5 separate regions of the Homo sapiens genome follow, and all the other regions are reported to be linked to region 1. Evidence: microRNA targets listed by miRTarBase, many of them from high-throughput screens and not tested one by one. Region 1 holds a microRNA gene; each other region holds the end of a gene's coding sequence.

Region 1 (5,109 bases):
GGACTCTAATTTGTTTGAGTTCAGACAATTAAGAAATAATAGTATTGTTTTTGTTTTTAAAGAAAGGATAAGAAGAAACGTGGGCCTCTAAAGATCATCATGGCAAAAGGTAGCCCTGCTTGCCTTCCAGTCAAAGCCTTCCCGGCTGGTTTGTGCAAAGCTCCAGAGCCGCCTGCTGCTCCTCCCCTGAAATGCTTTGCTTGTTTTCAGAAGTGCTGCATGGAGGCAAGAGGCTCTCTTCTTGGTTTTCTAAATTCACATCTATCTTAGGAAGGGGGTGGAACTGCACACCCTGGGCTTCGCTGTTAGTGGGAGATGACGCGGCCATCCCTCATCCCTCGGGATTGTGGACAGGGTGCTGGCCTGCAGAAAAGGACATACTGGGGCTTTATTGCTTCTGGGCTGGGAAGCGTTTCAGGGCTCCGAAGCCCACACCCATCTGAGGAAGCGCTGCTGCACTGGCCTGGGCCTTGGGCAGGTGGCATCAAATCCGATGCTGGGCTCTCACACGCTCTGCTGGGGCATTATGGACCATCTTTGCAGTTTGGCATGTTCCAAATTAACAAGGGCTCTGCTCTGTGGCCTCTTCCTAGCTGTTGATTCTGAGTGAGTGATCATTTTAGTAGAATTTAGATGTTCCAGCCTGGCATTCTGAGGGCAGCTGTCCTTAAGTAGAGCAGAGACAGAGATGAAGCTACAGCTGCAGTCTGTGATCAGAGCCAAAGCACGTGGACCTCCTGCAGCCCCTAACCCTTCTGCGTCACGAGCACCCTAAATTGCAGAAGGAAGCTGAAGGGGCAGAGGGGATATGGTGATTTTAAACTGTAAGGAACTTCAGGGCAAGTTTTGCACTGATTGGGTCTTTGCAATGTAATTTTTCTTAAAAAGCTTGTTGTAAAAGCATAATTAGAATGTTTTGCACATTTCTTTCTATTCAATGGAGAAATTGCACTGGGTAGATGTCACTCAGAATCCAGTTCTGGCCCTTTCAGGGAGTGAGACTTTAAAACAAGTACACAAGGTCCCACTACTCTTGGTGAAACTAAATGGGGCTGCTCAACTCCATTCCCAATCCCCATGGAAAGTGTGTGGTGAGCTTTCTCAAGTAGCAGCAGCCGACAGTATTAACAGCATCTCTACATTGTAAATACATCCATGGAGGGAGAAGGGAGGAGCTCTGTATAAACAGGAAAGTATAGAAGGGGCAATCAGGGCTGAGCTGCACCTGGGTCAGTAAGGTGGCTGCTCCCTGAGTGCAGAGACACAGCCTGTCCTGCCAGGAGCATGAAACCTATTCAATCAACATTTTTGTATGAATGTGCATCAGTGATCCTCAAGATATTAATAGGAGTTTCAGGGGACAAAGGCATTCTAGCGGCCCAATGAGGAAACCCCACAGTAAACAGGCTTAAATTCTTGTAGCATCTGTAATGTTCTGTGGGCATCCAAAATCCCAAATGTGTGTTCAGGGACACTTCCTCAGTGTCCCTAAACACACATTCTTTGGAGAGGGGTCAAAAGACTTATTAGTCGCTCCCAACAGAAGTGTCCAAGGAACACAAATTCAGAAAATAGCAATTCAGCTGCACTTCCTTATTTGCAGGTGAAAGCCGCCATTTGGTTTAATGGGAAGAGGTGGTTTTGGAGTCAGAAGACTGAGACTGGGATCTGCCTCCTAAGGATGATGGGTATTGGAAACTCACGCCTATGTATCCATTTGTACATTTGAATAGGGGTGTAGTTGTGGCAATGATCTGTAGCTTTTACTGAGCACAAGGTAGGGTGCCTAGAACTCAGGAAGTGTTTAATAAATGATAGCTCTTGAAATTACCAATGGAAAACTGAGTCCTGGTGAGAACCAACTGGCCCAAGGCCAGCCAGTAAGGGAGGTACAGGGCGGAGCTGGGTCTGGGTTTCTTGCCTCCCCATCAACATTCTTTTTACTGTACTACACTAACTGAGAATAGAAGTTGTACATAGTTGTATTTCTCTTATAAGGATAACAAATCAAATAGATGTTGCCAGATGTTTCTGTTTCACAGAAGAATGAAGTTAATGGTTGTATATCAGGGCTCAAACCTAAGATTTAAAGAGAGATTGCTGAGCAAGAGCAGCCATAAAAGATGTCTATGTTGGTATTTCAGCATTCCTGGGCCGCATAAAGCACCATTTGGTCACATCTGGTCTCCATCAGGCCTGAAGTGTTACATAAATACATGCATGGTTTATAGGGTAAGGAGGCCCTGTTGAGACTGGCCAGATGTGATCTGTTTAGGCTCTGCAGACAGGGCCCAGGAAACTGCCTGATAGCCCTGCACAATGCCCTCCCAAGGGACAGAGCTCTCTGCTGCCATCAGTGCATCTAGGGCAGAGATACCATGCTAGCTGCTGTCACTCATGTCCAACATGCTTGGGTGTTCAACCTCCCTCTGTAAAAGCTCTTATTATAGACAACCAGTGGAGTTCAGTTCAGAAGTTAGAGAACAAAATGCTTTAATGACCTTGTGGGCTCCATCCATCCATCCATCCACCCATCCACCCATCCACTCATCCATTCATCTACCCATCCACTTCACCCACCCATTCATCTATCTACTCATTCATTTATGCATTTCTGCAATCATTTACCCACATGCCCATTCATCCATCTACCCATCTATCTCCATCTATATTCATCCATCTTTCTATCCATCTATCCATCCACCTGCCTGTCTGTTCAATCTGTCCATCCACCTATCCAACCATTCATTCTTATCCATGCACCCACCCATCCACCCTCCCATCCAGTTATTCAATGAATATGAGCTCCTTGCATGTGCAAAGCACTAGTCTAGGCGCAGGGAATCCCGCAACAAACAAGTCAGGCATGGAGCTGACATTTGTATCATGTTCCAGAGGGGGAGACAACATTGAGTAATTCCACAATTATTCATTGGCTAGGGTAATAAACTCTCAGAAGAATTACAAAATGCTCCAAGAGTGTGTAATAGGAGATGCCTCCTAACTAGGAGGCCAGAAAAGGCTTCCCTGACGCAGTGGGAGTGCCGTGGGGCAGCCCGGAGCTCTGGCTACAGCCCTGCACCCACCCTGGCTACTGCTTGGTTGGTTTTGTTTTCCCCAGGCCTGCCGATTTTACAGTTAACTCTTTCCTCCATATCATAAGCTTCCAAAACAAGGTTATCCCTTGTTTAGGTAAAACCATTAAAATTTTCCTAGTATCAAGTCCCCCAAGCAATCTAACTAAAAGATTGAATCACAAAATAGAAAAGTCCCTTCTACCACAGCTAATGCTGGAGGAGAATTCCAGGGATCCCTGCACAGCAGTCTCAGGGCAGCATGCCTTCCTCCCCAGGCCACCCGGGGCTCTGAGGAAGGCTGTCAGACTTCGGCCCCTTCCTGTATACTGAGCTCCTGACCACAGTCTTGTGCCGGTTTTGCTTTTTTAAAAGGGACAAGCAAACAGGAATCTTCCCCATGCCTACCCTCACTCGTGCACACAAAGTGGGCCTGGCTGTCATTTCCTCCTGGGGTCTGATCTCTGTTTTATGCTCCTGCTTGTTGATTCTGACCCAGGTAAGCCACACAGGGAAAAGCCATCTCCCTGCTCCTTGCTTCGGGGCAGCAGAGCCATTTCACACACACAAACACCCTGCACCCCAGCTGCCTGGTTTCAGTGGCTGCTTGCTTATGGCCAGACAGCCGAAGGCCAGGCAGGGCCCGGCCTCTGTTCTCAGGTCTCAGCAGTGATTATGCATGCGAGGTAATTACACTGGTCTTGTTTCCGTGCTCTAGGCCTAAGCCTGGATATTCAAGGAAGGGAGCCTCTGGTTTTTTGCTACGTTATAATTTCTTTGTAGGGACAGGGCTCTAGGCGACTCCCAAATGGGCTACCTGTGCCGTGGCCACTCATTTCCTATTGTGCAGAGTAGCAATTACACAGCCAGAGGCTGGCCATGGGTGGGTTTGTTCTTCTCTGTGACATGTATTTTGTGAAACAGAAGAGAGGTCCTCTGTTTCTGAAAGCAACTCTTAAAATAAATACACCAGGCTCCTCCAAGGAATATCTGCATGAGAAGAAGTAAGCTACTATGTCTAGTGGCTCTCAAAGTGTTTTGGCGGGTTGGTCAGTCGGTCCACACAGGGAGAGAGGGGCAGGACAAAGGCCTCACCTCCCACTCAACACTTAATCCTGGTCTTGGGAAAGTTAGCGTTTGCCCACAGGTGACATGTTCTCAGGGCCTGACTACCTGCGGGTGGACACCAAGGATAAGCTGTGTCTTGAATTTTTTTAAAGCTTAAAAAGAAATTACTTCCAGCTGTGCATCATGAGAAGACACTGGTTGGTGTGTGTGAACCGATTTGCAGCACAAAGGGCCCCAGAGTACTTGGCTGGGCCAGATAGTGATGATGACTCATGCTGTCTTTACAAGATACTGCATAAACCTAGAGCAAGACAGAAGTTCCTCCCTCCCGACTCCACCCCCTGGCTTTATTGAGATGTAATTGACAAATAAAGCTTGTATACAGTTAATTGTACAATGTGATGATTTGATGCATGTGCATATCATGAAGTGACGGCCAAGATGAAGCTAATCAGCACTTCCACTGCCTCACATGGTTACCATTATTTTTGTGTGTGTGAGGACACTTCAGTTCTACTCTCTTAGCACATTTTCAACATACAGTACAGTATTATTAACTATAGTTACCATGCAGTTCATGGATCCTCAGAACTTAAGTATCTTATCACTGGAAATTTGTACCCTTTGACCAAAATCCACACAGTTTTTTCCTACTCCCCAGCCCCTGGTAACTGCCCTTCTACTTTCTGCTTCTAAGAGGTCAACTTCATTAGAGTCTGGTGCATATGTCTGTACTATGGAGTAGTATTCAGCCTTAAAAAAGAAGGACATCCTGCCGTTTGTGACAACAGGGGTGAATTCAGAGGACAGTGTGCTAAGTGAAAGACGCCAGACAAGAAGGACAAATACCAGATGGCTGTTCCTGAGAATCGAAGCAGGAAGAAGTTGCCCTTGACACTGAGCCCTTCCTGTGGCCAGAGGAAGCTGAAGGCAAAGAGGGAGGCTGGACCGTCCAGGTGAGAGGCAC
Region 2 (5,109 bases), not on the chromosome of region 1:
TCATCTCTACAAAAAAAAATTTTTTAAGCCGGGCATAGTGGCACATGCCTGTGGTCTCAGCTACTTGGAAGGCTGAGGGGAAGCCTGGGAGGTCAAGGCTGCAGTGAGCCATGATTGTGCCACCGCAATCCAGCCTGAGTAACAATGAGACTCCTAAAAACAAAAAAAGAAAAGAAAAGAAAGCAATGACCTTTTTTTTTTTTTTTAATCATTAAGCACTGAACAAAGCCACTATGCTAAAACTTTCCTGTTTTACTAATAGGAACAACATGCCAGAATTTCACAAATTAAAAGCAAAGTTGATAAAGAAGAAAGGAACACGGGCATATGCCTGCCAGTGTAGCTGGAGAACTATTGAAGAAGTGACTGACCTTCAGACAGATCATCAGCTTCGCTGGGTTTGTGGTAAACATTAAGAATGCAGACTGCACATTCGGACAGATGCATCCATGAGAGTGGTCTCCATGAATCATCATCATGTTTAGACAATAGTCCCTAGCAATACCATTCCCTGTGGGAAAAGGCAGTGAATTTTATTGATACAACTACATACATTTTTGAAGACCAAATGGACTAAGGAAGATCATGTATTATAACACTTTGGAATTATTCCTGATACATGGATGTTTCACTTAGTAACAGGCATCTACATTCTTTACTAATCTGTCTTCTGTTTAATAGAGGTTTGATTATGGAGTTCCATACAAATATCTAGTTTTTCATTAGCAACTGCAATATTGATTGCTAATACGTTTAGCAAATCATTCCCCAACTTGTAGCAGTTAAAGTGGATAAAGCCGGCCAGGGCAAAGAGATCATTTAGGGGTGTCTACAACACTTCTTCCAGTCAGATCTTTTGTTGCCAAAGATCATAATTTGGACATGGCAGAAACCAGGTGATCAGTGGCTGACTGAAGGGTGTTCAGAAGTAGTTACAGGTATTTTGCAAAAACACTGCCTCATAGCTGATCTTACCTCATCAACTCAAAGCAATGTTATGCACAATATTAAATACATGTTACCAGTTTTAGCTTATTTTTCCCTCTTTTGTTCATTTAACTATCAAAAGTTATTTTCTATTTTGATTACCCAATAATATATAAAAAGAGTTTGATGCACCCAAAATCACAAAAATCCTAATACATACAGGTTATTGTTGGATTTTCCAAGTACTTTCTATCCTTTAATGCCTAAAACTCCATCAAGGGAAGTAAACAGCAAGTAATATAATTTTTCAGGCAGCCTGTGGACTTCTCTGGTAGGATCAGGTTGACATATCGTTTATTAGGTGAGTAAGTGAAAAGACAAGTAAAGCATAACTGAACCAACAGGTAACCTGTTGGGCTCCTTCCTGACATCACTGAGATCTGAGGAGCCCTACAATAGCAGCACATTCAGGAAATCAGGTCCCTCAAAATTTCTAGCTCCCAACCCCATTGAGAGATTTTGGGAGCTTTCCAATCTGCCACAAACTCCCTGCTACATATGTACTATATAGTTCAAATGTGTGATACAGAGCACCCTGAAAGGGAATAATTGAAACAAAGTTATAATCTTCTTAGTCTTATGCTAAATTTATTCCAGCCACCCTACTGAAGGGAGGAAGATCTGATCATTAGAATCCTTTTCCTAGCCATGACACATTTACATACTTGTAAAATTTATTGTAGTAAGTCTAGCATTGCAACAGAATAGATCTTATAATGGCCAATCCTCACACTTTTGTATTAAGGATATTATGACAGACTAAGCATGGTAGCTCACGCCTGTAATCCCAGCACTTTGGGAGGCTGAGGCAGGCAGATCAGCTGAGGTCAGGAGTTCAAGACCAGCCTGGCCAACATGATAAAACACCATCTCTACTAAAAATACAAAAATTAGCTGGGCGCGGTGGTGCATGCCTGTAATCCCAACTACTCGGGAGGCCGAGGCAGGAAAATTTATTGAACCTGGGAGGCAGAGGTTGTAGTGAGCCAAGGTCGCGCCACTGCGCTCCAGCCTGGACAACACAGTGAGACTCTGTCTCAAAAAAAAAAAAAAGACATTATGACAGATTTTATCTTTTAATAAAAATGTATTATATCCCTAAAGTTATATCTATATGTAATTGAGTCAGAAACCTAGGGGGATGTCGATTGAAGTCGACTGCTGGAAAAAAATAGCAGAGCAACAAGATCCACACATTTAGAACCTCATAGAATTTGACACATTATTCATAATGGTGCAATTCTTTCTTTTTTATTCCAGTAAGCAAATTTACTAAATCACTAATTTGAAAAAAAAAATTTTTTTTTTGAGATGGAGTGTCACTCTGTTGCCGGGCTGGAGTGCAGTGGCACGATCTCTGCTCACTGCAACCTCCGCCTCGCAGCTTCAAGTGATTGTCCTGCCTCAGCCTCCCCAGTAGCTGGGATTACAGGCACACACCACCACGCCCAGCTAATTTTTGTATTTTTAATAGAGACAGGGTTTCACCATGTTGGCCAGAATGATGTCGATCTCCTGAACTCGTGATCCGCCCGCCTCAGCCTCCCAAAGTAGCCTACATTGCCTCTACTTTGAAGGGACAAAGTTGTCCTGGTTTTTTTTTCCCTTTTATTATTTCATTATAACTATCCTAAAACTTACATACATTGCCTATGTTTGGCATTCCATAACATAATAATTATAATAATCCCCCAATGTCAGAAATGTATGTGTGAGTTCCCATGTTTATTGGCAATTTATAAGCTTTTTAATATTGTACTATTTTAAACTAAAATGTAGAAAGAATATTATGTTTATATACAGTCAGATAAATTATTAACTGTTGTAATTTAAGCTGAAAATGAAACTATTTTAGTATCAGTATAGAAGAAAAGTATAGTTTCTAATCATCTATAATTTTAAAATGCAAAGCCTATAAAACTTTCAAGATGTTTTGCCTGTTTGTTTTTAAGATTTATAATAATTTTCTATCTTTAGCAAGTAGCTATTTTTAAGCCAGGTAACTTCTTTATTTGAACTGTATTATACTCTCAGACCCTCATCCTGCCTAGAAATGAATAAGTAATAAATAATTACTCTGTATTATTTACTTCTTTTATTTTATAGTAAAATATTCATTTGGATGGACATTAATTTGAAATCATTTTGATGTTTTTTTTTTTTGAGACAGAGTCTCTCTCTGTTGCCCAGACTAGAGTGCAGTGGTGCAATCATAGCTCACTGCTTCCTTGAACTCCTGAGCTAAAGCGATCCTCCCACCTCAGCCTCCCAAAGTGCTGGGATTACAGGTGTGAAGCACCATGCCCAGTCAAAAAAAATTTTTTTAATGTCAACAGAAAAGTTTCCAAGCATCCAGTTAAACAGATAATTTGTCTACACTGGGGAGGAGAAGTATGCCATAACTCTGATGTGTGTGTGTGTGTGTGTGTGTGTGTGTGTGTGTGTGTGTACATGCATGTGTAAAGAGAGTATGTGTGTGCATGCATGTGTAAAGTACCATGGGTATTCAAAGGAACAGGTCCAAGTTTAGGAAGAACAGGCCATGCTGACTTGGCGGTGTATACCTAGAACCTGTTCGTTGATGTCAGTAAACTTAGTACCTTTTTTTCTTAGGCCAGAGAATATGTCATCAGACTATGAATCTGAATTGCTTTCTCTCTTTTTCTTACTGATATTTAAGAATATGAAAGAAAAAGGTCTTTGTATCCAAAAGCATTGTGATGAAGCTTAGCCATGAATTTCAAATGCTGATATTTCTAATGTTTTAACAAAATCTCTATCAGCCAACCTAATGCTCCCAGTAATCAGCAATATCTCTTGTATAAAATAGTTCCTGAAAGAAAAAATTTAAAATACGCAATCTCTTTAGAGATTTCATATCTTATTGTATTTCATTGGGTTTGTGACATCATTTTGTGCCCTATTTTAAGAATGCACTAGAAAAACCAAAAAAGAAAAAAGATTGCATTAGATATGTATATATACAAGTACATGATAATTAAATTTGACTTTCCCCAAATGCCTTGAGATAAGGGATGACCAAATGAAGTTTAACAAAGTCAGAGTTCAGAGTCGTGTCCCTTAGAAAGTCACATGACATTTTGGGCTTCGTTCGCCTTAACTGTATGAATTATAATACCACTTTTGTAAGTTTGTTGTAAGGATTAAATCATATAACACATGAAAAGTGACTAGCATAGTGTTTGGTTCAGAATAGGTGCTTAATAAATGTTCTCATTCTTTTGTTATTATTATACTTTAAGTACTGGGATACATGTGCAGAACGTGCAGGTTACGTGCAGGTTTGTTAAATAATTATACACGTGCCAGGGTGGTTTGCTGCACCCATCAACCTGTCATCTATGTTAGGTATTTCTCCTAATGCTATCCCTCCCCTAGCCCCCTAGCCCCCAACCAGCCTCTGGTGTGTAATGTTCCCCTCCCTGTGTCCATGTGTTCTCATTGTTCAACTCCCACTTATGAGTGAGAACATGCAGTGTTTGGTTTTCTGTTCTTGTGTTAGTTTGCTGAGATGGTTTCCAGCTTCATCCATGTCCCTGCAAAGGACATGAACTCATCCTTTTTTATGGCTGCATAGTATTCCATGGTGTATATGTGCCACATTTTCTTTATCCAGTCTATCATTAATGGGCATTTGGGTTGGTTCCCAGTCTTTGTTATTGTGAATAGTACTGCAGTAAACATACGTGTGCATGTGTCTTTATAGTAGAATGATTTATAATCCTTTGGGTATATACCCAGTAATGGGATTGAACTTCTGGTTCTAGATCCTTGAGGAATCGCCACACTGTCTTCCACAATGGTTTGTTCTCATTCTTTTTCCTTTTAAAATAAATACTGTCTAAATTGAAGTAATAGTGCAGCATGATTCTTACAACAAGTAATTTGTAAAGATGTTTGTTTTATTTATTCCCTATGAGGAAAGCAGCAATGCGATCATTTATTTATAACTAGTGACTGTACACATGGCGACCTTTATTTTATATAAGTTGAAGCCACAACTTTTCTATTAAAAAAAAAAAAAAAGATGCTCCCCCTAGCCTGCCTCTTTCTGTGTGGCTTAAACCTAAGTGGGTCATCATGAAGGCATTCAGGCCTTTC
Region 3 (5,109 bases), not on the chromosome of region 1:
ACAGCCGAACAGATTCTAAGAGTATTTAATTGCCATTAATTCTTTTCTCACCCTGCACCTCCTTCCTGTACTTCCAAGTGGCACAAGCAAATACTACGAATTTTCTGGTTGCAGCTTTCTCTAAATGTTTGTGGAAAGAATAATATCTTGTCATTATGTTTGTTTAAGTGGCAAGACTGTGAATGTCTTTAGAATATAATAAAGCTCAAATTTTTTTAAAAAGTTGGAGAGTAGAGTCAGAGCATTGCTGGCTTACTCAGACTTAAGTTCTGCTTCTTTCTAAGAACGTGTGAAATGTTCACTCCTATAATGTGATTATTTTTCACTTCTTTTCTACTCCTCTCAGGCACCAAATGGTCTCCCAGCTGTGGGCAGTTTTGTGTCAGCATCCAGCATGGCTCCTTACCCTACCCCAGCCCAAGTGTCGCCTTACATGACCTACAGTGCTGCTCCTTCTGGTTATGTTGCTGGACATGGGTGGCAACATGCTGGGGGCACCTCATTGTCTCCCCACAACTGTGACATTCCGGCATCGCTGGCGTTCAAGGGAATGCAGGCAGCCAGAGAAGGTAGTCATTCTGTCACGGCTTCCGCGCTCTGATGGGAAATTCCGTCTCCAGCAGCTTCACCCGGGTCTCCCTGTCTCAGCACCTCCTCCCCCAATTCCCAGGTCTCACATCCCACCCCTCCTGCCCTCCAACCCTTCTGCCTTGAAAGCTGGCTGTACGGACTCACATCCTTTGTGCTAATGACACTTACATATTTCTTGCCATAACTTTTCTCTTGCAGAAAAACTGACATGACTTTAGGATTTAAAAACAAGAGCAACAATAAGCATTGAATGAGACATTTGTGTTGCCCACATACTGTCTTAACATAACAAAGAAACCTACACCCCTCAAAGGGTTTAAGGAACTTTACAAACTAGTCTTTGGTAAAACCACATGTGTATATTTATTCTAAATCAACCTGAACTTTTGAAATGTGCAATTGTTGAGATTTTGCAAAATCAATAAAGGAAAATACTTATAGAAAAAATTATGCTACACCCTCTAATCAAATATGGTAACCAAGTAAGCTTTAATTCATCATTAGGAAACAAATCAATAAGTGACTTGTTTGAGTGATCCTTTGTTTAAGACATGACCTATTTTGTTGAAAAATATATGTAGAACCCAAGCAATATCTGAATCTAGCTCTCCCTGGTGTTTTGACTTGGTTCCAAATACAATAATGTTTATATTTTCTATTAGTTTGTAAATACGGACTCTGGATGGTGCATTTGTGTCTTCATTCCATAAGATATTCCCCTCCCCTCAGCCCCACCCCCTCTCTATTTTTTTCTTTCTTTTTTGCAAAGGTGACTTTCTGGCAACGTCTTTGTCTCTGTTTGGTGGTGGGCTGCTCGGGCTCCTGGACCTGGACTTGCCCCCAAATTTTGTGTATGCAGTGAAGGCTTCAACATCTCATGAAGGACACTTTATTTCTACAGCAGAGGACACGAAAAACAGATAAAACAAGCCAGTCTCCCATTTTGTACCTAATCAAACAACACACATGCTAAGCATATAAAGACAAGAGGGTGGAAAATATCTGAACAAGAAGGCTCTAAAGGAAGTCACTTAGAAACTTAAGTTTAATGTGAAATGTTTTGCAAAGATGCTTAAAATGAACTTTGTGTTAAGAAAACCACTGTGAAACTAAATTGTCCTATTATTGTTGGCTTACCTGTGTGTTCAGCAATCTCAGCCCCAAATAATGTTGTAATTTAAAGAAAATGGAAAATTCTGCTCTAATGAATGTAACAATGGCTTGCTGTGAAGTTTACATTGTTGTACAGAAGCATGTTTCGCATGTAGGTAAACTGGTGGTGGTACTAGAAATACAATGTTATTTAATTTTAACAAATTCCCTTTATTCATTTCTGAAATTACAGGACACAGTTTAACTCATAAACCTTTCTAGACCAATTTATTTTTCACTTTAATGTTAATAACAGTTGTGGAGTATATGTGTGTGTGAGCATGTGAGTATGTGTTGTATTTTAAAACAATTGATTTTCTGGGGCAAAATTCTACAGTTTTTAATCCCTTCTGTTTAGGAAGTTCTTCCTGTTTGGCAATATAGGCTTAAAAATATGTTTTTAGGACATTGGTACAATTCAGCTGTTGGAAAATTAATATATTGAGGGTTTTTTGGTACTAATTCTGTGCAATAACTAAAAGAGCACCTCACTGGATATGGATGTTGAAGATGGATTCCCTAGGTGATTTTAATTTCTTCCGGTCTGTGCTGTGCACAGTCTACATGGCAATGCGGTTCCACCACATCGGTTTCGTGGCTTCGTTTAAAACTCAGATGGCTAGATTAGTTAGGTTTTCAAATCACTAGGATGTAAACAGTAAGCAGATTTCTGACACACAAATTATGTTAGAGTGACTGCTTTTTTCAGACAGCAGATATCTTATAGAGAGCTTTGAACTGCATTTATTTCTAAAGCAACCGAAATTCAGTGCTACAAATAGAGGATTATAACTTCAGGAGAAGAATAAGCAGAAGGAGCAGATGAACTCTCAGGGCCATAGTCTTCCTTTGATCTTGTAAAACTTCCATTGACATCTGGAGTTCCCAGTCTGGTGAGAAAATAGACTATAAACTGAATGGAACAAAGATCCAATCCAATATTTTGGTGGAGACTTCTTTAAAACCATACCATACAGGGACTCTCCTGTCATCTGAAAAACTGATGTAAGGTACAGAACTATTCTTTATCAAATGTTTTTAGGTGGCTGTTAGGGGGCTTTAAAAAATATTACTTGCTTGTGTGGAAATGCAAATAATGTTATTTTCTTTATCTAAATTAAGAAATCTCTTGTTATTGTGCTATTTATAATTTTTTTCTGGTTCTTGTATTTTAAAAAATCTAATATTAATGGTATTGAAGTTTCCTTTTCTCCCTCTAGGTCTTAACAGTGAATTCACATGGAGTAATTTTTAAAAGATATCAGATACAATTTGCTATTCAAAGAAAATTATGATTTAAAGCCACTTTTTAAAATACGAGAAGGAAAATAGGATGGATTAAAGGGTTAACTTTTAAAGATTATTATTGGTTAATGTTGACATATTTCCTCTATCTCATAGATGGTAAAAGTGTTGCTTTTAAACTGGCAAATGCACTCTTCAGAAATCCTTTTCTATCTGATCCACATGGAGAGGTTAAAGGTTCAATTTCATGACCTCTATGCAGGCAGCGCTCTCATTGGATGTAAGAATATTACCTGCAAGGATAGAATGCAGTTGTGCAACAGAGACACATTCTTATTTCTTTTTTTTCACAATTTTGTTTTGTTTTTAATGACCCTTTTATTGAATATTGGACTGAAATATAAATTTTAAAAAACACGTTGGAAAGGATGTACAACAGAAGGCTATGTATGTATATACAGTATGTCAAAAGCCTTTTATTTTTATACTTCAAATGCTCTAAATTAATAAAAAGTAATAATTACCATGTTATCTTTTACTTTTTATTTTCAAAATGCTTTAGTGAAATAGCCCCGTAGTAGAAATAGCCCACGGTAGTAACTTAGGACAGGTGTCATATGGACTTTCAGTTATTCTTGTTGACTTTACTGAATCAGCATCATCTCTGGATGCAGATATAAAATCAAGTTTGGTTACATCAAGACCAAGGAGATATTTTTGTTGATACATGTTAGTATAGTAATCCTTAGAAATGCTAAGTGTATTTCTTTTTCAGAACATTTCCCCTTCATCATACATATTTTAATACTGCAGACAGCTGACTTCCCACCTGAAGTTGTCGTTTAAAACTAATAACCTGAAAATGCAGTTCTGTTCTATACATTCTTCCTAAAAATGGCACAGGTAGGCATGCTGAATAAAGGTATTTGGATGCAAATACTGATGGCTGACAAATGGGTCCAAAGGTGTTTCCAATTTGTGATTTAACATGACAATATCTCATCAACAAAACTTATCTTCAAAGAGAACTATGTGGAGGAAAGTAAATTTTATTTCATGTTTCCTACTTGTGTTAGAAGAGATTTGGAATACCTTGATTTAAACATGCTTAAACAACAGTGTTTTAACATTCTGTTTTAAACAATGTTTTAAAATACCTATTTATTATCTTACAGCAATATGAGATATAAAGTAGATGTAGGAAAATAGAGCTGATATGTGCATAGTTACTAAAAAAAACCAACAGATTTACATTTTAACATAGTATTCATAAAATTAAACATTCTTAAAAGGTCATTTTAGTGCACTTTAAAAAATTTTTCTTGTGCTCTTTAAATATTATTTATGGAATAATTTAATTCATTATAAAAACTGCTTAAATTTTGGCTTAACTTTTTTTTAATCCAGTCTTTGAATAATTTGATTTATTTTCAATAGTTTAAGCATTTCTAGACCTCTTAGGAAAAATGCTGATCAATACAATGAATTTTCATTGTGAAGCATTGAAGAGGAACACAGGAGACAAAGTTTCTATTTATTTTATGAAATAAATATATGATTTCTATGCTATTTTTCTATATTCACTTTAAATACCTCATTGTTTCATATTATTTTTTTCTTCTCACAGTTTTATTTATACAGCCAAAACTATAATCTCAAGTTGCCTATAGACATTTTTTAAAGTATTAAAATAGATTTTGTTCTTGAACAGTTTTCTCCTTCATAATTATACACCTGGCCGATCGATAGTCTCTCTTCTTCATGGTGCTGCATAGCAAATATCCATTATCTCAAGGGGGAAAAACACTTCATAGGCAATCACCAGTTCTCTTGAAGCCATGAATAGGTGTATTCATAAACCAGCAGCATCACTGCACCACCTAGAAAAGAAAAGAGCTGTTTTTTATTGCAAATCCTCTGGAATAGCACTGGCTTTCCCACTGGGTTTCTGAATCCATGATGTCTCGCACAGCCTGTCAGGCAGAGGCTGTTCGGAATCAACAGTTCTGGAGCTTCAATACCAAGATATAAACTACTGTGGAAAATTCTCAGGATAAAATCAAGACCATCTTGAGTCTCCAAATACATTTTTCCCCATGAGTTTTTGCAACTTTCATCATT
Region 4 (5,109 bases), not on the chromosome of region 1:
TCACTACAAATCAGACAAATCCTAGTGGTCAGATATCTTATGAATGTGGACAATGTGGCAGATATTTCATTCAAATGGCAGACTTCCACCGACATGAGAAATGTCACACTGGTGAAAAGTCTTTTGAATGCAAAGAATGTGGAAAATACTTCAGATATAACTCATTACTTATTCGGCATCAGATAATTCACACTGGAAAGAAACCATTTAAATGTAAAGAATGTGGAAAAGGTTTAAGTTCAGACACAGCCTTGATTCAGCATCAGAGAATCCACACTGGAGAAAAGCCCTATGAATGTAAGGAGTGCGGCAAGGCCTTCAGTAGCAGCTCTGTCTTCCTCCAGCACCAGAGGTTCCACACTGGGGAGAAGCTCTATGAATGTAACGAATGTTGGAAAACTTTCAGTTGCAGCTCAAGTTTCACTGTCCATCAGCGAATGCACACTGGGGAGAAACCTTATGAATGTAAAGAGTGTGGAAAACGATTAAGCTCCAACACAGCCTTGACTCAGCATCAGCGAATTCACACTGGGGAGAAGCCCTTTGAATGTAAGGAGTGTGGGAAGGCATTCAATCAGAAAATAACCCTGATTCAGCACCAGCGAGTTCACACTGGCGAGAAACCTTATGAGTGTAAAGTGTGTGGTAAAACCTTCAGCTGGTGTGGAAGATTCATTCTGCATCAGAAACTACACACTCAGAAGACACCTGTCCAAGCATAGGGCTATCCATAGTTAGGCCCACTGTGCCTCTCCTTTTTTCTCTTTATTTTCATGCTTTTTATCAGTGTCCTCGCTGTCCTTCCTGGTTAGACACTTGGCTTTCATCATGAACTCTTCTTTAAGTTTTTTGAACCTGTTTCCCCAACATGAAGTCTCTTTATGGTTAGAGAAGACCAAAAAACAAACAAACAAACTTAGAAACATAAAAGGAAATGTAAGTTTCCAGATTTAAAGGACATGCTGGGTGCCCAGCAGGATGGATTCAAGGGAAACCTACATTAAGGAAAATTGCTGTGAATTATGAAAACACCAAGTTTGAATAAGAGGATCATGGAGAAAAAATGAGACCCTAAAAAGTTTCTAGAGAGAGAAAACAAAAGATCAGAAATGAAAGCGGGGCCAGGCGCGGTGGCTCGTGCCTGTAATCCCAGCACTTTGGGAGGCTGAGGCGGGTGGATCATGAGGTCAGGAGTTCGAGACCAGCCCGCCCAATATGGTGAAACCCCGTCTCTCCTGAAAAAAAAAAACACAAAAATTAGCCAGGCATGGTGGCGCATGCCTGTAATCCCAGCTACTAGAGAGGCTGAGGCAGGAGAATCACTTGAATCCCTGAGGCAGAGGTTGCAGTGAGCTGAGATCGCACCACTGCACTCCAGCCTGGGCGACAGAGTGAGACTTTGTCTCAAAAACAGTAAAAAATGAAAATGGCATTAGATTTTTCAAGAGCAACCTTCAAAGTCAGATGACAATGTGTATGCCTTCAGACTTCTCATGGAAAATGTTTTCCCCTGCAATTCTATACTCCAAAGTATAAGTATAGAATAAAGGCATTTCAGACCCTTTAAATCTGAAATCTTTATCTCCCATGCATCCTTTCTCATATGTGCAACACTACACAAGGAGTAAACCAGTAAATAAAAAGACAGATATATGGATTCCCTATTGCAGTCCGTACGTCAGAAGTCTCCTAAATTCAAAAACGGGCCCTGTCCATGTGGAGCCAAATGCATCTTGGAAGACATTCCTAGTAGGGTGCAAACTTCCAGAGACCTATCTCAGGTTCAGTGTCCACCCACCCTACTTATTCTTCAGTTTGTCTTCACTAGACAGTTGTACTCTGTGCCTTTGCAAAAGTCAGGATGTATATACTCTTTGAGTCAGGTGCAAGGCACCATTTGTCTTAAATTTATTCTCATTGCTGTTTCAAGTGACCTCAAAGCAGGCAGCATTTTCTTGCAATTCCATCTAGTTATTTTTTATGATCATGGAAGAACCTACCATTATTGCTGTTACCTGTGGAAATGAGGGAAGATGTAAATGTGTTAGGTTTTAGCATCCCCTCTGGCAGCCAGCTTGATTTTGCAGGAAGCAGAGAGTAGTGATTAATAATACAGAGCCAGGCAGACTTTGGTTTGAGTCCAGGTGTTTGTCCTTGGTTAAGTTACAAAAACTGCACTAGTTTCCTTATCTGTAAAATGAGGATGACAGTTAATCTACCTCATAGGTTTGTGTTGGGGATTAAATGCATTATTTGTAGAAGTGTTTCAAACAGTGACTACATATAATAAAAGTATTACCTATTATTGGCCGGGCACAGTGGCTCATGCCTGTAATCCCAGCACTTTGGGAGGCTGAGGTGGGCAGATCACAAGGTCAGGAGATCAAGACCATCCTGCTAACACACTGAAACCCTGTCTCTACTAAAAGTACAAAAAATTAGCTGGGCGTGGGGTGACATGTGCCTGTAGTCCCAGCTACTTGGGAGGCTGAGGCAGGAGCCCAGGGAGGCAGAGGTTGCAGTGAGCCAAGATCATGCCACTGCACTCCAGTCTGGGTGACAGATTGAGACTCCGTCTCAAAAAAAAAAAAAAAAAAATTTTTACCTATTATTATAATCCTATTGGTAAGTTTTGACTTATCAATATACTAGTGAAACAATTATCACAGTTCAAGATAATAATCAGCCACCACCCCAAAACTTTGCTTGTACCCCTCCATAATCCCTTCCTCTTGGCCCTTCACAGGCAACCACTGGTTTGCTTTCTGTCACTTGGATTAATTTTCCTTTATTTTTTGGTCTGGTGTCTTTCACTCAGCATAATTACTTTGAGATTCACCCATGTTGTTGCATATATATCAATAGTTCATTCCTTTTTATTGCTGAGTAGTATTCCACTGTATGGATATGCCATAATTTGTTTATTCATTGACCTGTTGATGGCCATTTGGGTTGTTTTCAGTTTTTGGCTATTACAAATAAAGCTGCTATGGACATTTGTGTCCACATCTTTGTAAGAATATATGCTTTCATTTATCTTGATACAGGAGTGGAATGGCTAGGTCATTAGGTAGATTGGTATAGATTAAACGTTTTAAATTTTTATTATGTTTTTATTTTTTAGAGGTTGGTGGGGGGCAGTTCTTGCTTTGTTGTTCAGGCTGGACTCAAACTCCTGGGCTCAGGGTATCCTCCTGCCTCAGTCCCCCTGTCCTACTCTTAGTAGCTGGGACTACAGGTGTGCACCACCATACCCTATTTAACATTTTGAGAATCTTCAAAACTGTTTTACGAAAGAGGTTGTGCCATTGTACATTTCCACTTGCATTGTATGACAGTTGTACTTCCAATACATCTATGCCTACACTTGATGTCAGTTTTTAAAATTTTAGCTATTCTAATTGTTTAATGCTATCCCATTGTGGTTTTAATTTGCATTTCTCTAATGACTATTGTGCTTATTTGTGTTCCATATAACTTATTTGATGAAGTGTCTGCTCATATTTTTTGCCCATGTTTTTATTGTGTTGTTTTTGTTTTATTAATCTTTGAGAGGTCATTATTTATTGTGGATACAAGTCTTTTTCAGATATGTGATTTTTAAATATTTTCTTCTAGCCTGTGGTTTGCCTTTTCATTCTCACAATGGTGTCTTTTTTTTTTTTTTTTTTTTTTGAGATGGGGTCTCACTCTGTTACCCAGGCTGGAGTGCAGTACCACCATCTTGGCTTACTGCAACCTTTGCCTCCCAGGTTCAAGTGATCCTCCCACCTCATCCTCCCGAGTAGCTGGGATTACAGGTGCACATCATGACAGTGTCTTTTAAAGAGCAGAAGACATTAATATGCATGAAATCCAATTTATCAGTTTTTTATTTTTAAATAGAGATGAGGTCTCACTATGTTGCACAGGCTGGTCTTGAACTCCTGGGCTCAAGCGAGCCTCTTGCCTTGACCTCCCAAAGTGCTGGAATTATAGGCATGAGCCACTGTGTCTAGCCTTTTTTTTTAATGGATCATGGTTTCAGTGTCAAATCTAAGACATCTTTGCTGTACCCACATTTGCAAAGATTTTTTTCCTAAAGTTTTCCCTTTAGAAGTTTTATAGTTTTTGTGTTTTTTTTTTTTTTTTTTTTTTGACAGAGTCTCACTCTGTTGCCCAGGCTTGAGTGCAGTGGCAGGATCTCAATGATTGCAGCTTCGGAGGTTGCTCACTGCAACCTCCACCTCCTAAGTTCAAGCGATACTCCAGCCTCAGCCTCCTGAGTAGCTGGGATTACAGGCAGGTGCCACCATGCCCAGCTAATTTTTGTATTTTTAGTAGAGATGGGGTTTTGCCATGTTGGCCAGGCTGGTCTCGAAATCCTGACCTTAAGTGATCTGCCCACCTCGGCCTCCCAAAGTGCTGGGATTACAGGTGTGAGCCATCGCACCTGGCCAGAAGTTTTATAGTTTTAGGTTTTACATTTAATTCTATCATCTATTGAGTTAATTTTTGTCTGAGGCATGGATCCAAGTTTTTTTCTTTTTCTTCATATAAGTATCCTATTGTAGCACCATTTTTTTCTTTTTTAAGAGATGGGTCTCACTATGTTGCACAAGCTGAAGTGCAGTGCTATTCACAGGCATCATTACAGTGTACTGTACCCTTGAATTCCTGGTCTCAAGTGATCCTCCTGCCTCAGCCTCCTGAGTAGCTGGGACTACAAGTCTGTGCCACTATTGCCTGGCCTGTAACACCATTTTTTGAAAAAAGTTCCCCCACTGAATTGCCTTTGTACCATTGTTGTGAAGCAGAAGTCCATATATGTGTGGGTCTATTTCTAGATACTGTTCCATTGATCTGTTTGTCTGTCTTGATGCCATTAAGGCACTGCCTTTATTATTATAGTTATCTAATAAGTGTTGAAATCTAATAAGTGTTGAAGTCATATAGTGTTAGTTCTCTAACTTTGTTCTTTGTCGAGGTGTTTTGGCCATTAGAGGTCCTTTGCATTTCCATATGAATTTTAGAATCAGTTTTTCACTTTCTACAAAACACCTCCTGGGAGTTTGATTGGGATTGCATTGAATATAATGACCAATTTATGGAGAATTGACAAATATACAG
Region 5 (5,109 bases), not on the chromosome of region 1:
CTCACCCTGTTGCCCAGGCTGGTCTCGAACTTCTGGGCTCAAGGAATCTTCCTGCCTTGGCATCCCAAAGTGCTGGGATTACAGGTGTGAGCCACCATGCCCAGTCTCAACTATCTGTTTTATGAGAGGAAGAATTTCTTAGGACCTACTGTAATTTGGGGCCAATCTTTTTCTGAGAATTTCCGAAATGTTCATGGTTGTGGTAGGGATTAAAGATATAGCAGGGATGGCCATCTGGGGGAAACTAGAGGAATTCAGGTAAGATGATGGTGGTTACCACTTCCGATTTGTCAGACCAGAGACAATTCATTATCTTGAGTGCTGTACACTTCCATCCTTGGATTGTTTTTATTCTTCTATCACTTCAGCTTCATTCTCCTCCAAGCTCATATTTCCAGAAATAAGTTACAGCCTCCACACCTGGGCATCAGCTGGTTGCACTTCTTCTTTGTGGTCCACTTGAGTGTGACTCTTCCATGTGTTATTTTGCAAGGGTTATCAAAATTTAGGTCATTTGGGAGAAATGGCATTTGCCATGAATTAGAAGGAAGAAGCTCATAAAACAGTTATAATTTATCAGAGAACTCTTCCCTGACTCACTCTACCCTTGTTGGGTCCTTTTATTAAGATATTCTCAAATCTTATGTATGCTTCCTGTGCAGCACTTGTTAGAACTTGTCACACAGGTTTTCAAAATATCTTTTGGTGGCTTTCATTAGACATTAAGTTTCTTGAGATCAGGGACCATGTCTGTCTTTTTTGCTATGTTTCCAGCACTCAGCACAGTACTCAGAACACAAAGTTGCTCAGTGGCTATCTGCTGAATCAATGAGTGTGGGAGCAAAGCCCAGGCTGCTCAAATGTATGTGCTGATGGCATTTATGTGCAGGTAAATAGCTCTTATCCACAGCTTACCTGATTGTACTGTCCAAGCATCAGCACCCTATGACTAAATAAGCAATCAGATGTATTTTATGGGGACTAATTTTCTGAAGTTGGCTCAGGAGGGAAAAAATGGAGACCTGACATGAAATTAATTTATAAATCAGTTTATTTACAGATTTTATCTTTCTTAAAGTATATTTCAGTTAACAAATCTATTTACACAGGTATACATGGGAATTCATCCCAGTTATTTTACAGATCGTACTTACAAACCACACCCTTAAGTGTTCGGTGCAAAATTGCACTGGATGTGACTATTGGCTGAAAATGGCCTGATGACCAGGCTATTTACACGCACACAGTAAACGGGTTTATTTTTTCATGTCTGCACAGTACAGTACACACAAGGAGGCTGAACCTCCCAGAGAATGCTTTGCAATGTGTTTGCCAAGAAGGCTTTGCAAAGTCCAGAAGGAAAAGCTATTAAACATAGGTTAATTAAAATGACAGTACCTCCTTTACATCAGTTTACATTTTTTCTTCACATTTTTATAATACAAAGATATTTTATTGAATTGCTGCACAACCAGTTGAAGATGATTTGTAAACATGTAAATTCCTACAATTTGCATTAAATGTCATTGTAGTTTCTATAATTTGCTCTTTGAATTAATGTTTTATTCACTAGTATTCTTAAGGTAGTAAAAGGAAGATGTAAGTTTGTATTTCTTGCAGAAAAGTTATGAGTCTCTAATGCTGTGCTACAGAAATTCTTTTGCGAGTACACACTTTATTCAAGTATTGCAAAAAGCTAAGGCCACTTTTTTTTCAAGACAAGAAACTGAACAAAATTGTTTTTATCAATAGGCCACAACACTCTTATGAGCAATGAAATCTCTTTTGAAAGATAATTTCTCAGAGACCTGTAGTCACAGAAGGAATTTTCTTTTCTTTTAGGTAAAAGAAAAACAAATTACCTTCCTTATTAACTACGTTTGAGCTCTCCCCACTTTTCCCTATGGTAAAAATTCCTGTGTAGACCTGAAGAGGGAATCTATACCCTGTACTTGTTTAACCCAGAGTTAACTACCCTGGATAGCACAAATTGTTTTGGACTCAGAAGTAAATCTGAAGCCTGTATGTTGGTTTACTGCTAAATTCTGATAGTGCTATTCTAAAAGATATTACTGCTGATGCAAAGATATTTTTCTTAGAGGAATTATGAAGGAAGAGTGAAAGAGGATGAGGGTGTAGGGAGAAGGAACAAAGATTAGAAAGAGGGAATATTTAGGTTCTTGATTAAGAGGCAGAGCTGATTTAAAAAGATACCAATATGGAACGAGTGGCTGGGTATCCACATCTATCTTTCTTAATCCTAAGAATAAAGCCATTTCAATTAGATCCAAATAGTTAATAAGAAATCTGCTAATTATGGATTCTTTTTTCTTTTTTTTTGCTACCAAACTACAGATAACCATTTCTAGAAAAGAATAAGACTGATCCATTTCTGCCTCTCATGTGGAGCCTAGGATTCTTCAGATAGTAAAGACAGTTGGAGTCTGTCAGGACAGCTACTGCCACATTCTTGGCAGCATTTCTTACCAGATTGCTGATTCCATGACTTGTATTTTTTTTTTCTTTTTCTGGAGTCATAATTTCAGAAAGAGTAAAGATAAACTTTCTTATTAAAAACTGGTTTTAGGTCCAAATAATGAAGATGTAGAAAAACAACCTACAGTCCCATTATAACATTTTGAAATTCATTTATAAAAAATTTACAGCAGCTGTAAAGTTTCAGTATCGTAAGGACAACGTGATCCTACAAACAGCCAAAGGATGTAGACAAGATGTTTTTCTGTCTTCCAAATAACACAAACTGAAAAGAAAAGCCTTTGCTTTTCCTTGGCCACATAAAACTAGTATTTCCACACTACTGGTTAATAACCCCAAGAAACCTTTGCTTCTCTTAGTCAATTTGCTCATTATGGCTACAAGACTACAGCTCAACATCACAAGCCCAGAAGAAATGCTGGTAAGACATCAATCTGAGCATTTCCCGAGACCCAATCACAACATTTCAGTGCTTTCCTTATTTGTCAAGAGCTATCATACCAGTCATTGTGCAAAATGCAAATATTCCAATGATTATTTCAGTACATTTCTTAAACGACAAGATGAAACCCAAGAGGAATGGGAGTGTGCATAGTGAAATATTTAAGATGCAAAGGCAAGTTTGGAGGGAAGATGCAGAAATAAACGAACGTGCACACTTAAAGATTATACCATCTTTGGGGTTTTTCTAATATACTTTGAAGCTATAACATTCCAGGATATTTGTAAATATGAATCCAGTAGATGTCTTGTATCATGCTTCTAACCAGGACCTTCAATATTAAGGCATTTACATTCACGCCTAAGAGTATCCACATTCTTCTAGATTACTTGAAGAGGGACAGGACTGATGAACGGAAACCAGTCAAGAAGGCAGGGTACTGAGGTCCCAGGAGAGCATCTCTTATGCTCTAATGTAGCAGCTGGAGTCTATAGATTTTTTTTCAGATGCAGGTAATAGTTGTGAGAAGCAATGCTGCAAGAGAGGCAGAGTTAAATTGTACAGTGTTTTTAAATCATTTTATCCCACTGCTGCTATTGCAGGTGATCTGGAAAAGCCCATCTTCGTTTCACTGAATTAAAATGACTTCTTCAATATGTGTATTGGTTTGTTAAAACCACAGGTTCCTGTGCAAAGACTATGAACCATAGAAGCTTCAAGATGGAGGTTTAACTATTACAAGATGAATCTTTCACTTCTGAATAGGGACACACATTTTCAACTTAATAATTTATCTTAAAATAAATTAAAAAATGTTCCATAGCGCAAAACAAGCACACAAACAATAGACAATATCTTTTTGTCTTTGGTGCACACACTCATTTCCTAAATCATTCAAGTAACAGCATCTCTGACTTCTTGGGGAAAGATGGGAGTTGAAGGTTTGCAGGCCAAAATGAATTATTTCCACTTTGCCATGCCTGGATGCCTGAGATGGTCCTGAGTATCTGTGATTCTGGGAGCAGCTGGTAGAGATTCAGAATGAGTAAGACAAGTGCAGGAGTAAACCAAGGGGTAAAAGAACCAGCCCTGCATTGGTCCTTTGAGCCCAGTCTTCAGTAGGGGCATTTCTTTGTTTTCATGCCCACACAGAGAACACTAAACATAATGCAGAGGTTTAAAATTCTTTAGATGGTGCTCAGAAAGCAAGGCTACCACTTATTCCTGTTAGCCTGACAGTCCACTTGGTGCTGCTCAACTACAATAATGGAAGAAAATGGTCTTCAAAAAGAAATGAAATAAACTCCAGAATGTGAAGTTGGCAGACATTATTGAGCTTGCCTATTTTAGAAGTGGTTAAGGGTTTAATACTGTTTAGAGACTATAATGTCCATTTATGACTTCCATGGTATAGACCAGAATTACATTTCAAAAGTGATGTGATGCATTTATCTATACCTCTCTCACTTGACTTCAGACTCAAAGAAGTGATACCCTAGTCTAAACTCAGAGGTAAGTCAGGTGTTTCTGGCCCTCTGGGACCTAGTAGGGGTGTTAGCAAAAGGTGTAGGATTACACTGTGCAACCCTGCCCACTGAAAATAACCCATTAATCCAGTGGATAGTCTCGAAAGGCAAAGGCTGTAATACCAGGTGTACCACATTGTCCTATGAACTCCATACTGGTAGTCTTTAAGAATAAGTACAAGGTCCAGAAGCACTCTTGCTATGATGGCGATGGGTGTACATCAGGAGGCAGAAAGGCCCAGGACTCACATTAGCACTCAGCGTTCGATTTATTTGCAAGATGTCACACAAGTAGCATTCTCCCCTGCTTTTCACTGATCTGATTCAGAACATCAATAGTATCTTTGATCAGGGTCTCAAAGATCCCGTCGGCTAGCTGCATTTTCACACACAACTCATCCTCATCATAGTTCACCCACTGTGCCTCCTCCTCATGGAGCTCCTGAACCTAGGATTTAGAAGACAATAAGGTTAGAAAATTCCTGTCATACAAAAGCTAGAAAATATAATTGCTGACTTTGTAGTCCTATCCATAGGAATACAGCCCAAGGAAATAAACCAGAGAAAAAAGATAATTCATATGATATCAATACCCCTTTTAAAATTGCAAAAAGTTGAAAAAACCTCAATTGCCAAATATCAAAA

The links. The annotated mature microRNA hsa-miR-4289 reads GCAUUGUGCAGGGCUAUCA and lies in region 1 at 2,305-2,323, opposite strand. An mRNA with a match to its seed (bases 2 to 7 or 8) in the 3' UTR can be bound and repressed. Matches are read on the target gene's strand: a 7mer-m8 pairs with bases 2 to 8, a 7mer-A1 pairs with bases 2 to 7 and ends in A, and an 8mer does both.
Region 2: miRTarBase lists CFAP418 as a target of hsa-miR-4289. The part of its 3' UTR that is shown has no 7-base or 8-base seed match.
Region 3: the mRNA of SLC25A21 is a reported target of hsa-miR-4289. Seed matches in the 3' UTR shown: 7mer-A1 at 4,583-4,589 and 8mer at 4,478-4,485.
Region 4: miRTarBase lists ZNF620 as a target of hsa-miR-4289. The part of its 3' UTR that is shown has no 7-base or 8-base seed match.
Region 5: the mRNA of CEP350 is a reported target of hsa-miR-4289. Seed matches in the 3' UTR shown: 8mer at 3,001-3,008 and 7mer-A1 at 1,524-1,530.

What each region holds. Positions count from the first base shown.
Region 1 is chr9:88,743,573-88,748,681 of GRCh38, forward strand. It overlaps MIR4289 (microRNA 4289), which reads right to left and starts at 2,333; the gene lies at 2,264-2,333. RefSeq lists an enhancer at 3,557-4,245 and a silencer at 4,142-4,436.
Region 2 is chr8:95,242,924-95,248,032 of GRCh38, reverse strand. CFAP418 (cilia and flagella associated protein 418) reads left to right here. Exons shown (of 6, transcript NM_177965.4): 6 at 263-3,120. The coding sequence ends at 416. Among named protein-coding and RNA genes, the nearest start is that of CFAP418-AS1, 23 kb to the left of the region's middle.
Region 3 is chr14:36,675,852-36,680,960 of GRCh38, forward strand. It overlaps SLC25A21 (solute carrier family 25 member 21), which reads right to left. Exons shown (of 10, transcript NM_030631.4): 10 at 2,070-4,868. The coding sequence ends at 4,807. PAX9 (paired box 9) reads left to right here. Exons shown (of 4, transcript NM_001372076.1): 4 at 347-3,511. The coding sequence ends at 601. Among named protein-coding and RNA genes, the nearest start is that of PAX9, 17 kb to the left of the region's middle.
Region 4 is chr3:40,516,142-40,521,250 of GRCh38, forward strand. ZNF620 (zinc finger protein 620) reads left to right here. Exons shown (of 5, transcript NM_175888.4): 5 at 1-2,595. The coding sequence ends at 722. Among named protein-coding and RNA genes, the nearest start is that of ZNF621, 6.3 kb to the right of the region's middle.
Region 5 is chr1:180,110,800-180,115,908 of GRCh38, reverse strand. CEP350 (centrosomal protein 350) reads right to left here. Exons shown (of 38, transcript NM_014810.5): 38 at 1,034-4,912. The coding sequence ends at 4,748. Among named protein-coding and RNA genes, the nearest start is that of QSOX1, 42 kb to the left of the region's middle.